Linked DNA regions of Homo sapiens. The protein of the gene in region 1 interacts with the protein of each later gene in a pairwise test. Each region holds a gene or a part of one and is shown in the gene's direction. Other genes may lie near its edges.

Region 1 (3,654 bases):
ATGAAGTGGGAAAAAAAGCAAACAAGTTGCAGAGTAAGGTATATTATAAGGTTCCTTTTTTTATTTTTAGAGACAGGGCCTCCTTCTGTCCCCAAAGCTGGAGTGTTGTGGTGTGAGCATAGCTCACTGCAGCCTCAAACTCCTGAGCTCAAGCCATCCTCCTGCCTCAGCCTCCCGAGTAGCTGGGACTACAGGTGTGTACCACCACATTCAGCTAATTTTTGTACTTTTTTTTTTTTTTTTTTTGTAGAGACCAGGGTCTCTCTATGTTGCTCAGGCTGTTGTTAAACTCCTGGTCTTAAGCAATCCTCCCAATTCAGCCTCCCAAATTGCTGGAATTACAGGCATGAGGCACTGCACCTGGTCTGATTCCTTTAAAAAGAAAAAATAATGAAAGAAAAAAATCCTATTGATTTAACAAACAATCATGAAATAAATGGACTGCTTAAAAGAAAAATAAAAGAGTAGAAGGATGTACACAAATACTTGCAAGTTATCTAAGTTTGGATTTCTGAAAGGAGCACCAATCAGCTAAATATTTGCTTCTTAAAATTTTACTTGCTTTTGTCTGGGAAGAGCATAATTTTTTTTTTTTTTTTTTTTTTTTGAGACACTGTCACCCAGGCTGGAGTGCAATGGCATGATCTCGGCTCACTGCAACCTCCATCTCCCAGGCTCAAGCAATTCTCCTGCCTCAGCCTCCCGAGTAGCTGGGATTACAGGCGTGTGCCACCATGCCCGGCTAATTTTTGTATTTTTTTTAGAGATGGGGTTTCACCATGTTGGCCAAGCTGGTCTCGAACTCCTGACCTCAGGTAATCTGCACGCCTTGGCCTCCCAAAGTGCTGGGATTACAGGCATGAGCCACCATGCCCTGCTGGGAGAGCATAATTTTATAGAAAGTCTCTTTTTCTGGATTGCTATGGGGCTGTTTACCATTTGAACTAAGTATAAAGGGGTCATTTCAGTAAGATTTTTACCAATGTTCACCTGGAGATACGTGACATATGACGGAGACAGAGAGAATATTTCCATAGCACCAGTGTGTTGACATTGGTTCATTCTTTGATTCATACATTTATTCAGTAAGTATTTAACGAGCTCTTCCAATATGCTGCAGCGTGAGACTATGCCAGGTCTCCTAGAGATGGAGAGGAAAATAGGACCTGGCTGTCATGCCACTCACTCTGGCACAGATGGACAGGTACATAAGTACTTGTGTAGGGTACAGCATGTGTATAATTCATGAGCCAATGTCAATAAAACCATGTCCAGAGGGCCATGGATTCAGAATCCTAGAAGCAGGATCGCTAATTTTCCTAGATATTGCCAGACACCCTCTGTGGTGTACCATTTTTACCAGCAATGAGTGAGAGCACAGAGGGAATCTTTTTAGTATCATTGAAGTAAAACAGATGCTGCTTTGTCAAGAGTATAAACATTCTTCTGGCAGAAAATGTTAAAGTAGTCATAGACGTATTATTTTATAGACAGGGTAATTGGATGGAAGCAATGGTGATATATATTAGGAGGAAGAGTGACAGATGACTTGTAGACCCAATAAAGTGCTGAAGGACCTTCTGTCTATGCAGAAGACCTTGACGTATGAAGGGCCTCCTCCCTCTCCTTTGTAGAGCAGGAGGGCAGTCTGCTTCTCAGTCTGTCAGTCATTTGTGCCTTGAGCACAGAATGAGCACAGTGTCTATAAACAGTTTGTACATGCTTAAACAGATTGTGTAATTTTTTCCAGCAAATTGAAAGATAAAATATTTGACTGGTCTGATGGGTATCTTCTTTCCATTTATTTTCTTTCCCCTAATTTTACTAATGCATTCTTTCACTGGTTCTATCACTCAGGTAGGTACAAAATACAGCCTTAACTTGCGATTTGGGAGTGAGACTGAGATGGAAAGAATAGATTTGGGATGGAAGGCACCAAAAAGTGGGGTAAGGTTGAATATTTCTTCAGTTCTCATCCTCCCTGATTTTTATTGGCTTTTAGCCTTCATTTGGGAGCTTTCTTTTCTTAGCTTTCATGAAATATAACCTCCCAGCTCTCCACTGACTTCTTTTTTAAATTTTATTTTTAATTGACAAGTTAAATTATGTATATTTATGGTGTACAACATGATGTTTTGCTTACTTGCTTCTCAAATCCCAGCCTGCCTGCCTGCCTTCCTTCCTTCCTTCCTTCCTTCCTTCCTTCCTTCCTTCCTTCCTTCCTTCCTTTCTTTTTCTTTCTTTCTTTCTTTCTTTCTTTCTTTCTTTCTTTCTTTCTTTCTTTCTTTCTTTCTCTCTCTCTCTCTCTCTCTCTCTCTACATGCACCATGGGCTCTTCTTCCTCTCCCTGGTTTAGAGCAAAGGAGGCTTTACAATATATAAAATATTAACTATCAGTTAATGTAACTAAGTGCTTTTCCCTAAATAAATTTAGACCAAAAATATATATGGAAAATACAAAAACACAGTATATTATGGCCGGGCGTGGTGGCTCATGCACTTTAGGAGGCCGAGGCGGGTGGATCACCTGAGGTTAGGAGTTCGAGACAGCCTGGCCAACATGGTGAAATCCCATCTCTACTAAAAATACAAAAATTACCTGGGTGTGGTGGTGGGCATCTGTAATCCCAGCTACTCAGGAGGCTGAGGCAGGAGAATCACTTGAACCCAGGAGGTGGAGGTTGCAGTGAGCCGAGATTGCGCCACTGCACTCCAGCCTGGGCGACAGAGTGGGACTCCATTTCAAAAAACAAAACAAAACAAAACCCCAAAAAATCTGCAACAAATTACAAATGTGTGAAGCAGTAACTTAGTTCATATAATGTAATAACAATATAGTAATTGTCTTAGTCCATTTTGTGCTGCTGTACAGGATACCTGAGACTGGTTAATGTATAGAGAAGAGAAATTATTCCCTTACATTCTGGAGGCTGGGAAGTCTAAGATGAAGGTGCTGGCATCTATTGTCTGGTGAGGTCCTTCTTGCTCCTCACGTGGTGGAAGAGAGAAGGGCAAAAAGGAACAAACTTCCTTGGTGGAGTCCTCTTAAAATAGCATTAATTCATTCATGAAGGTGGATTCATTGTGACCTAAACACCTCCCAGAAAGCTCCACCTCTCAATACTGTTGTCTTAGGGATTTGATTTCCAACCTATGAATTTTGGAGGACACATTCAGACCATAGCAGTAATCACGATACACAGTTTTTGAGGACTTCAAACCAAGTACTCTTCCCCCTCTGTCACAGACATTATGTACTTAAAAGTTCTTAAGAACCATTGCGCTTAAAATGTGTTAGCCTTTTGACTTAGAAACAATTAACCTCAATAATAACAGAGATAAACAAACCAGTTTTCCAGTAGAAATCATTCTGGATTTGTTGAACAAAGACCACAACTTCCTTCTGATGGTCTCAGTTGTTTTCCTGGTAAAGCTATGTAGCATGGCTGTTGGTTTTGGTTTGGTTCGTCCGGCTCACAAACCCACATTTCACTTTCCAAGGTGGCCAGAGACAACCCCAGTAATGACACAGATAAACAGACTGATTGTCTTTAGAAATCTTTCCAGGTTTGTTCACCAAAGACTGGATGTCCCACTATCACCTTACTTAACACAACCCCTCTAACTGATGCTAAGTGACTCAGCTTTTTTGTA
Region 2 (3,654 bases), on another chromosome or scaffold:
TTTGTATTTTTTTAGTAGAGACAGGGTTTCACCATGTTGGCCAGGCTGGTCTCAAACTCCTGACCTCAAGTGATCCACCCATCTTGGTCTCCCAAAGTGCTGGGATTACAGGTGTGAGCCACCATGCCCAGCCAATCCTGTAATTTTTAAGTCATGGGTACAGGGGGAGTTTTTTAAGGGCAAGACTGAACACATATGTATACTCTTCATACAGAAACAGCTGATGGAGTGGGATGAGCTCTTATTACACCATGCTGAAATCTGTGGCTCTGCCAGGTGCCATAGCTTTTCATTCACAGTAGTGATGAAAAATAGAACCCAGTTTCAGAAATGTCTCTGGAAGCGTCGGAAGACTGTTTCACTGGCCCTCTTCCTTTGCTCCTAAGACAGGAGTCAGTTTCAGAGAACGCAATTTATTCATCCTCTGACTCCTCTACCTCTGGAATCTCTTTGTCAGCCTTCTTTGCTTAACTGTCACATCTCCTTGTCCTGACTCACAGCTGGTTTTTGAATACTTTTGATAGTATCATTTAAGTCTCATAGTTTGATCAGTATAAGATCTTTGGAATACTTTTGTTTTTCTTTTGTCTTTCACTTGATACAAAATAAGTCAGATTACAAGAGGACAGTGGTTGGCTTAAATAACATTGGTCACCAACTGTATCTAAAATGTGTTTTTTAGTTAATTAAAAATACTACTAGAGCACATAATTCTGGTATGAAGCATATCTGAAGGAAAATGCTTTTTTAAAGATAGCTTCATTGAGATATAATTTGCATACCATATAATTCAGCCATTTAAAATATGCAGTTCAGTGTTTTTAGTATTTTCACAGAATTATGCTACCATCATCACAATCCAATTTGAGAATATTTTTATCACTGCCATACCCATTAGCAGTCACTCCCCATTACTCCTTCCCCTAGCCCTAGGCAGCCACTAATGTACTTTCTGTCTGTATCTATTTCATACACATGGAATCTTATAGGAAAGTGTTTTTTTGAGACAGAACCTTGCTCTGTCGCCCAGGCTGGAGTGCAGTGGCGTGATCTCGGCTCACTGCAACCTCTGCCTCCCAGGTTCAAGCAATTCTCCTTTCTCAGCCTCCTAAGTAGCTGGGACTGCAGGTGCATGCCACCACGCCCAGATAATTTTTGTATTTTTAGTAGAGATGGGGTTTCACCATATTGGTCAGGCTGGTCTCGAATTCCTGACCTCAGGTGATCCACCCACCTCAGCCTCCCAAAGTGCTGGTATTACAGGCGTGAGCCACTGTGCCCAGCCGGAAAGTGTGTTTTAAACTCATTTTATCCCTGACTGTAAGAAGGGTGGGCTGCTGTCACTGATTTTCTTAAAAGGTCTCCATAGTTATGTTAAAGAAAAACTTTAGATAAATTAGCAATTTGAGCAAACCAAGAAGAGGTTCGGAGAGCTTCACCCAGCAGCATGAGCAGCTGTAGGCTGAACACAAGGCAAAGACAAGAAATTTTTAGATTGTCTGTAGCTATATGTTTGTCTTATTTGTGCATGGTCTCATCAGTTGGCTGCTTGGGATTGGCTAAAGCTTAGCCGTTTGTGATTGACTAAAATTCAGCTATTTATTAAAAAATATAACCCTAGGTTTCAGTTCGTTTACGTAAGTTAGGTTCCGGGGGGTGGGTTGGGGTCACACAGGAACTCAGAGTAGGGAGATAGCCTCAGGTTAATGGCTTCCTGCTTATTTACTTTAGCAGTTGAAGTGATCCATGAGCTTTACAGTTTCTATAGTGAAAATAGGGATAAATTGCCATTTCTGTAAGGTATGTAGGGAAATATTGTTTGTAAAGGCTTTACTATTGTTGAGTGTATTTTTTTTTTTTTTTTTGAGTTGGAGTTTCACTCTTGTCGCCCAGGCTGGAGTGCAATGGCACAGTCTCGGCTCACTGCAACCTCTGCCTCCCGGGTTCAAGCGATTCTCCTGCCTCAGCTTCCCGAATAGCTGGGATTATAGCCGCCTGCCACGACTCCCAGCTAATTTTTTGTATTTTTAGTAGAGACAGGGTTTCACCATGTTGGCCAAGCTGGTCTTGAAGTCCTGATCTCAGACGATCTACCCACCTTGGCCTCCCAAAGTGTTGGGATTACAGGCATGAACCACCGCTCCCAGCCAATTGTATCTTAATATTTAAAGAACTAGTAAATATTGATAAATTTCTTGATTGTGAATTTCATCTTTCTATTTCAACAGCATTACTCATTTAAATATACTTTTCTTTTTTTTTTAAGATGGAGTTTCGCCCTGTCGTCCAGGCTAGAGTGCAGTGGTATAGTCTTGGCCCACGGCAACCTCTGCCTCCTGGGTTCAAGTGATTCTCCTGTCTCAATCTCCCAAGTAGCTGGGATTACAGCCATCCACCACCACACTTGGCTAATTTTGTATTTTTAGTAGAGACAGGGTTTCCCCATGTTGGCCAGGCTGGTCTCAAACTCCTGACCTCAAGTGATCTACCCGCCTCGGCCCCCCAAAGTGCTGGGATTACAAGCGTGAGTCACCACACCCAGCCTAAATATACTTTTCTATTTGTAAAGTGAATATGACTTTATTTCAGAGAGCATTTCTAGGCCATGTTTCAAATCTTTTACTGTACAGATTTGCTTGAACTATTAATATTCATAGTAATAGCTAACTTTTATATATTACTTTATAGGCTAGATACTGTTCTAAGCACTATATAGAGTCACTCATCTAATTCTTACACTCTGGAGTAGGTGCTATTACAATGCCCGTTTTACAGGTGAGGAAATGAAGATATGCTGAGGTTAAATAATTTGCCCAAGGTCATACAGTTAGTCATTGGTATAGATAGGATTCAAACCTGGGTCTGGCTCAAACTTGGAGCTCTTAACCATGCTGCTGTATTGTTTGCTATGATATCAAGAGCTCAGAATTGAACCAGTTTCTTCATCTTCTCCAGTATTTTTTAAATCAACATTTGTAGTTTTACAAAAGTTAATAATCCACAAAAATTTAAGTAGTTTCCATTTTGTTTCTTTTCTTTTCCTATAAAGATAGTAACCATTTCCTCCAGGATAGATTCAGTGAAAGAGAATGATAAATTCTAACTGTGTTATTTATATCTGACATATTTGCATGATAAAACTCCTGGATTGAGAGCCAGGCATTGTGGTGTGTGCCTGTAGTCCCATCCACTTGGGACGCTGAGGCAGGAGGATCACTTGAGCCCAGGAGTTTGGGCTGTAGTTTGCTATGATTGTGCCTGTCAGTAGCTGCTGCACTCCAGTCTGGGCAATATAGTGAGGCCCCATTTCTTTAAAAACAAACACAAAAAACCTCTTGAATTCATGAAAGAAAATAAATTAACAGACTGTTTAAAAGTCAAGAATTTATTTTGTATGTTTTTACGATTTTGCATTTCAGTGTTGGCCATAGGAGGCAAAGGAGCAAGTTACTGCTTCCTCAGCAGTTTTGATGTAGCTAGAACCAGCAATTACTTTGACTAAAAGAAAACTTTGTAAGTTCATTGACTTTTATCCAGAGTAAGAGCAGTCCTTTGCTTTGGGGGAATTAAATTGGCATTTTCTTCTTTCAGTTTCATTATAGATGTCTTACAGTTAATGAATAATAGCAGTATGTTGTAATATACAAAATGTAT
Region 3 (3,754 bases), on another chromosome or scaffold:
GACAGAACTAATAGGGGATGGAGATATATTTCTGAGTTTATTAAGTATTAACTCACACGATCACAAGGTCCCACAATAGGCTGTCTGCAAGCTAAGGATCGAGGAGAGCCAGTCCAAGTTCCCCGACTGAAGAACTTGGAGTCCCATATTCAAGGACAGGAAGCATCCAGCATGGGAGAAAGATAGGCTGAAAGTCTAGGCCAGTCTCGTCTTTTCACGTTTTTCTGCCTGCTTTATATTCTAACCGTGCTGGCGGCTGATTAGATGGTGCCTAGCTAGATTAAGGGTGGGTCTACCTTTCCCAGCCCACTGATTCAAATGTTAATCTCCTTTGGCAACACCCTCACAGACACACCCGGGATCAATACTTTGCATCCTGCAATCCAATCAAGTTGACAGTAAGTATTAACCATCACACCAAGCTTTTGCTGGAGCCTCTTGATGACAATTTTGATTGAGTCAGAAGGATGAATTTCGCAGAGATGTTGGTTATATTAACAACTCATTGCACAGATGGAGGACCTGAGGTCCACATCCAGCTACAAATTTCTGCCTGCCTCCTGCCTCCAGGCTGATCTGGGGACGTGTTGGCCTCTCAGCATTATTGCCCATGCCCTAGTCTGGTAGAAGAGTGGTTTAAAAGTGTGACTGTTTTATTCTTCATAAGAATCAGGCTGCCTTGGTTGAAATTGTGGCCCCATCACTTTGCAACTTTGTGGCCTCTGGCAAGCTATGGCACTTCACTGACCCATATATGTGATGGAGATAATGATACGGTTATTACAGGAGCACACTTGATGATAGGTGTAAAGCACTCAGTACAATGCCTGTTTGTAGGAAGCATCTAATAAATTCTAGTTGCCAGTATAACTAAGCACTTGCCCTATTTTTCAAATGCTATTTTAGCCAGATCAAATAGGTAGGAAAAAGCCTGTCAATCATGAAGTTTATACTTTCCTGTTTCTAAAAAGGTACACTTCTAAAAATTTATATAATTCATTTATAGCTATTAACTTAAACTTGGAAAGTTTGGATATTTGGTCTGTCTTCACAAGTGTTTATCTGAGCCCTACCTCTCAAATTAACATGTATCACCATTGATGTGCATTATGTTGATTCTTATACCTATTATATGCATGTGTGAAACTAAGCCCCATAAAAACAGAATTTAGGCATTCCTGCTGAAAGGAAGTGAATTGAAGGGAAGAGAAGCAGAGCCTTTGCAAAGAGAAAATTGTCCTATCTCTCAACCAGTGTCAGAATGTGGAAATGTTTACAAAATGCTCATTAAAAGAAATAGGGATTGCAAGATAGAAACAAATTCTGGTGCACAAGTTTACACTAGGGAGATAAGAAAGGCTAGGCCCCTATAGGGGATTTTGTTATCCAATTACTGCAACCTGACTTTTAGGGGGAGAGGAAGAGTGGTAGGGGGAGGGAGAGAGAGAGGAAGAGTTTCCAAACTTGTCTCCAGTGACAGGAGACATTTACGTTCCACAAGATAAAACTGCCACTTAGAGCCCAGGGAAGCTAAACCTTCCTGGCTTGGCCTAGGAGCTCGAGCGGAGTCATGGGCTCTCTGGTCCTGACACTGTGCGCTCTTTTCTGCCTGGCAGCTTACTTGGTTTCTGGCAGCCCCATCATGAACCTAGAGCAGTCTCCTCTGGAAGAAGATATGTCCCTCTTTGGTGATGTTTTCTCAGAGCAAGACGGTGTCGACTTTAACACACTGCTCCAGAGCATGAAGGATGAGTTTCTTAAGACACTAAACCTCTCTGACATCCCCACGCAGGATTCAGCCAAGGTGGACCCACCAGAGTACATGTTGGAACTCTACAACAAATTTGCAACAGATCGGACCTCCATGCCCTCTGCCAACATCATTAGGAGTTTCAAGAATGAAGGTAAGTTTTTGCTGATGAAATTTTGCTAGGATTTTTTTCAAGACACAATAAGTAAATTTACAATGCATGGGAATGATATAGGTAAGGGTAAATACATCTATATAAGGATGTTAAATACATATGGATACACAAAAACAAGGCACATTTTGTTCTATACCAATTATATAGTCATTTCAGGAACCTCGAAAAATACTTACAAACATCTTTTAATCCAAAGCCACAAAACATCTATCAATTTGACATCATAATTGGGTCCTTTTAAAAAATGTTAATTTGAACACCAAGTAATACAAAGAATTAATGTTGGTCTACTGCCGTACCTTTGTCATTTTCCAAATAGGCCTTGATTGCCATATGGGCTTTTAATTAACTAAAAAATTTCTCAACTTCTACTTAGAATAAAAAGGGTAAAAACAGTCAAAAAACATCAAATTGTGATTTGTGTTTTGTTCAAACTTTTGATAAGTTTTTATTTTGTGACCTTATTTAAGAAATGTTCAAACAGGATGGAAATATATTTTAAAGATTCTTCCTAAGGCTGTGTTGTTTGATGTGTCATGTACATCCTTAAAGCACTGTTTACAGTTTCCAGGAAGTGTAGATGGCCCATTAATCATCCAGCTCATCATTTCCGTCTTTATAAAGAGCAACGTACAAGCTTTGAATTATTGGTGGGAAAAGTGTGTTTTCTTCTCTTAGGTCTTTAAATTTGGTAACTAAATCTAATGAGCTAGCAAGTTAATGTTTTTGTTTGTTTGTTTGTTTGTTTGTTTTTTGGTTAATATGGTCCTAGTAGGAAAAAAAACCCCTGATATCTAGATATCTATAGTAGAAGCTGAAGGTCCAAAGGAACTAATTTAATTTTTGCCAGTTATGCTTTTATAGTCACTAACCAGGTATAAAAGAAGCTTCCCGTTAATATTGGCCAGATGTTCTTGAAAGAAGAAAGGTAATAGTGAAGAAATAGCTCAGGATTTGGGATTTTGAGAGCTAGTTGGCTTAGTGGTTGTGAATAATTAGCTGATGCCTCAGAGCCTCAATTTCCTCATCTATAAAGTGGGAGTAATAATACCTACATAACATAGTTGAGTGACTCAAAGGAGGTTACAGATAAGAAAGCACTCCATTTACTATGAAGTGCTGATCAAACTTTAGTGACTACTAATGAGTTACTTAATATTCTAGGTACTGGAATAAATGTTGAGTAGGTATTCCTTAGTCCCTAAGATATTATCTCCCTTTAAAATTGAGTTGGCTGCCAAAATTTATAATTCATAATATCTTTCTCATGGAAATGGCAAGTTGAGATTACAGATTGCTTTTGGAGGTGAGTCTGAATTGAAAATGAACAACTTCCTCCTGTAAGAACCCTCCCTAATACTTCTCAGCACTGAGCCCTAAGTGTCTGGCTCAGGGTGTGGGTGAGAAAATGTTGTTTGCATCCCCTGGAAAACTAGAAACGTTTTCCGTTCTCACTTCTCTCATAGAGTATCTGGATGATCCAGGTCAGGATGTGGAGTTTACTGTGCTTATTATTACTGGAGATTATTGAGGGCAGGAACACATCTCTTAGTAAACAACCCAGCCGCCAGCACCTCTGCCAGTCTGCAGGAAATGTGCAGCCTGAGGACAGAAATCGCACAGGACATGCCCTGTTGGCTACTATTGCCTCTCTTCTGACTCTTTGGATCTGCTTAGTGCAGCTCCCTAGGAGAGAAAGACCAAAAAAACTCCAAACCTACCCCATCTTGGGAAAAAAAAGTGCCACCTCCAAGGTGAAAAAAGCGTGCTCCTTTATCACCTTGTCATTTGGGGAAATCAGTTATCTGCATCAAGGCTTGATTTATTCT

Evidence for each region.
Region 2: the proteins of SLC10A6 (region 1) and TMEM50B interact in binary tests that used the Homo sapiens proteins (3 or more experiments, as listed by UniProt).
Region 3: the proteins of SLC10A6 (region 1) and BMP10 interact in binary tests that used the Homo sapiens proteins (3 or more experiments, as listed by UniProt).

Annotation. Positions count from the first base shown.
Region 1 is NC_000004.12:86,835,866-86,839,519, reverse strand, and holds part of SLC10A6 (sodium-dependent organic anion transporter), read left to right. Parts: intron 1-3,654. UniProt on the Homo sapiens protein: Transports sulfoconjugated steroid hormones from the extracellular compartment into the cytosol in a sodium-dependent manner without hydrolysis.
Region 2 is NC_000021.9:33,455,863-33,459,516, reverse strand, and holds part of TMEM50B (transmembrane protein 50B), read left to right. Parts: intron 1-3,419; coding exon of another isoform or gene 3,420-3,502; exon of another isoform or gene 3,503-3,513; intron 3,514-3,654.
Region 3 is NC_000002.12:68,869,175-68,872,928, reverse strand, and holds the start of BMP10 (bone morphogenetic protein 10 preproprotein), read left to right. Parts: upstream 1-1,531; 5' UTR 1,532-1,570; coding exon 1,571-1,904; intron 1,905-3,754. UniProt on the Homo sapiens protein: Required for maintaining the proliferative activity of embryonic cardiomyocytes by preventing premature activation of the negative cell cycle regulator CDKN1C/p57KIP and maintaining the required expression levels of cardiogenic factors such as MEF2C and NKX2-5.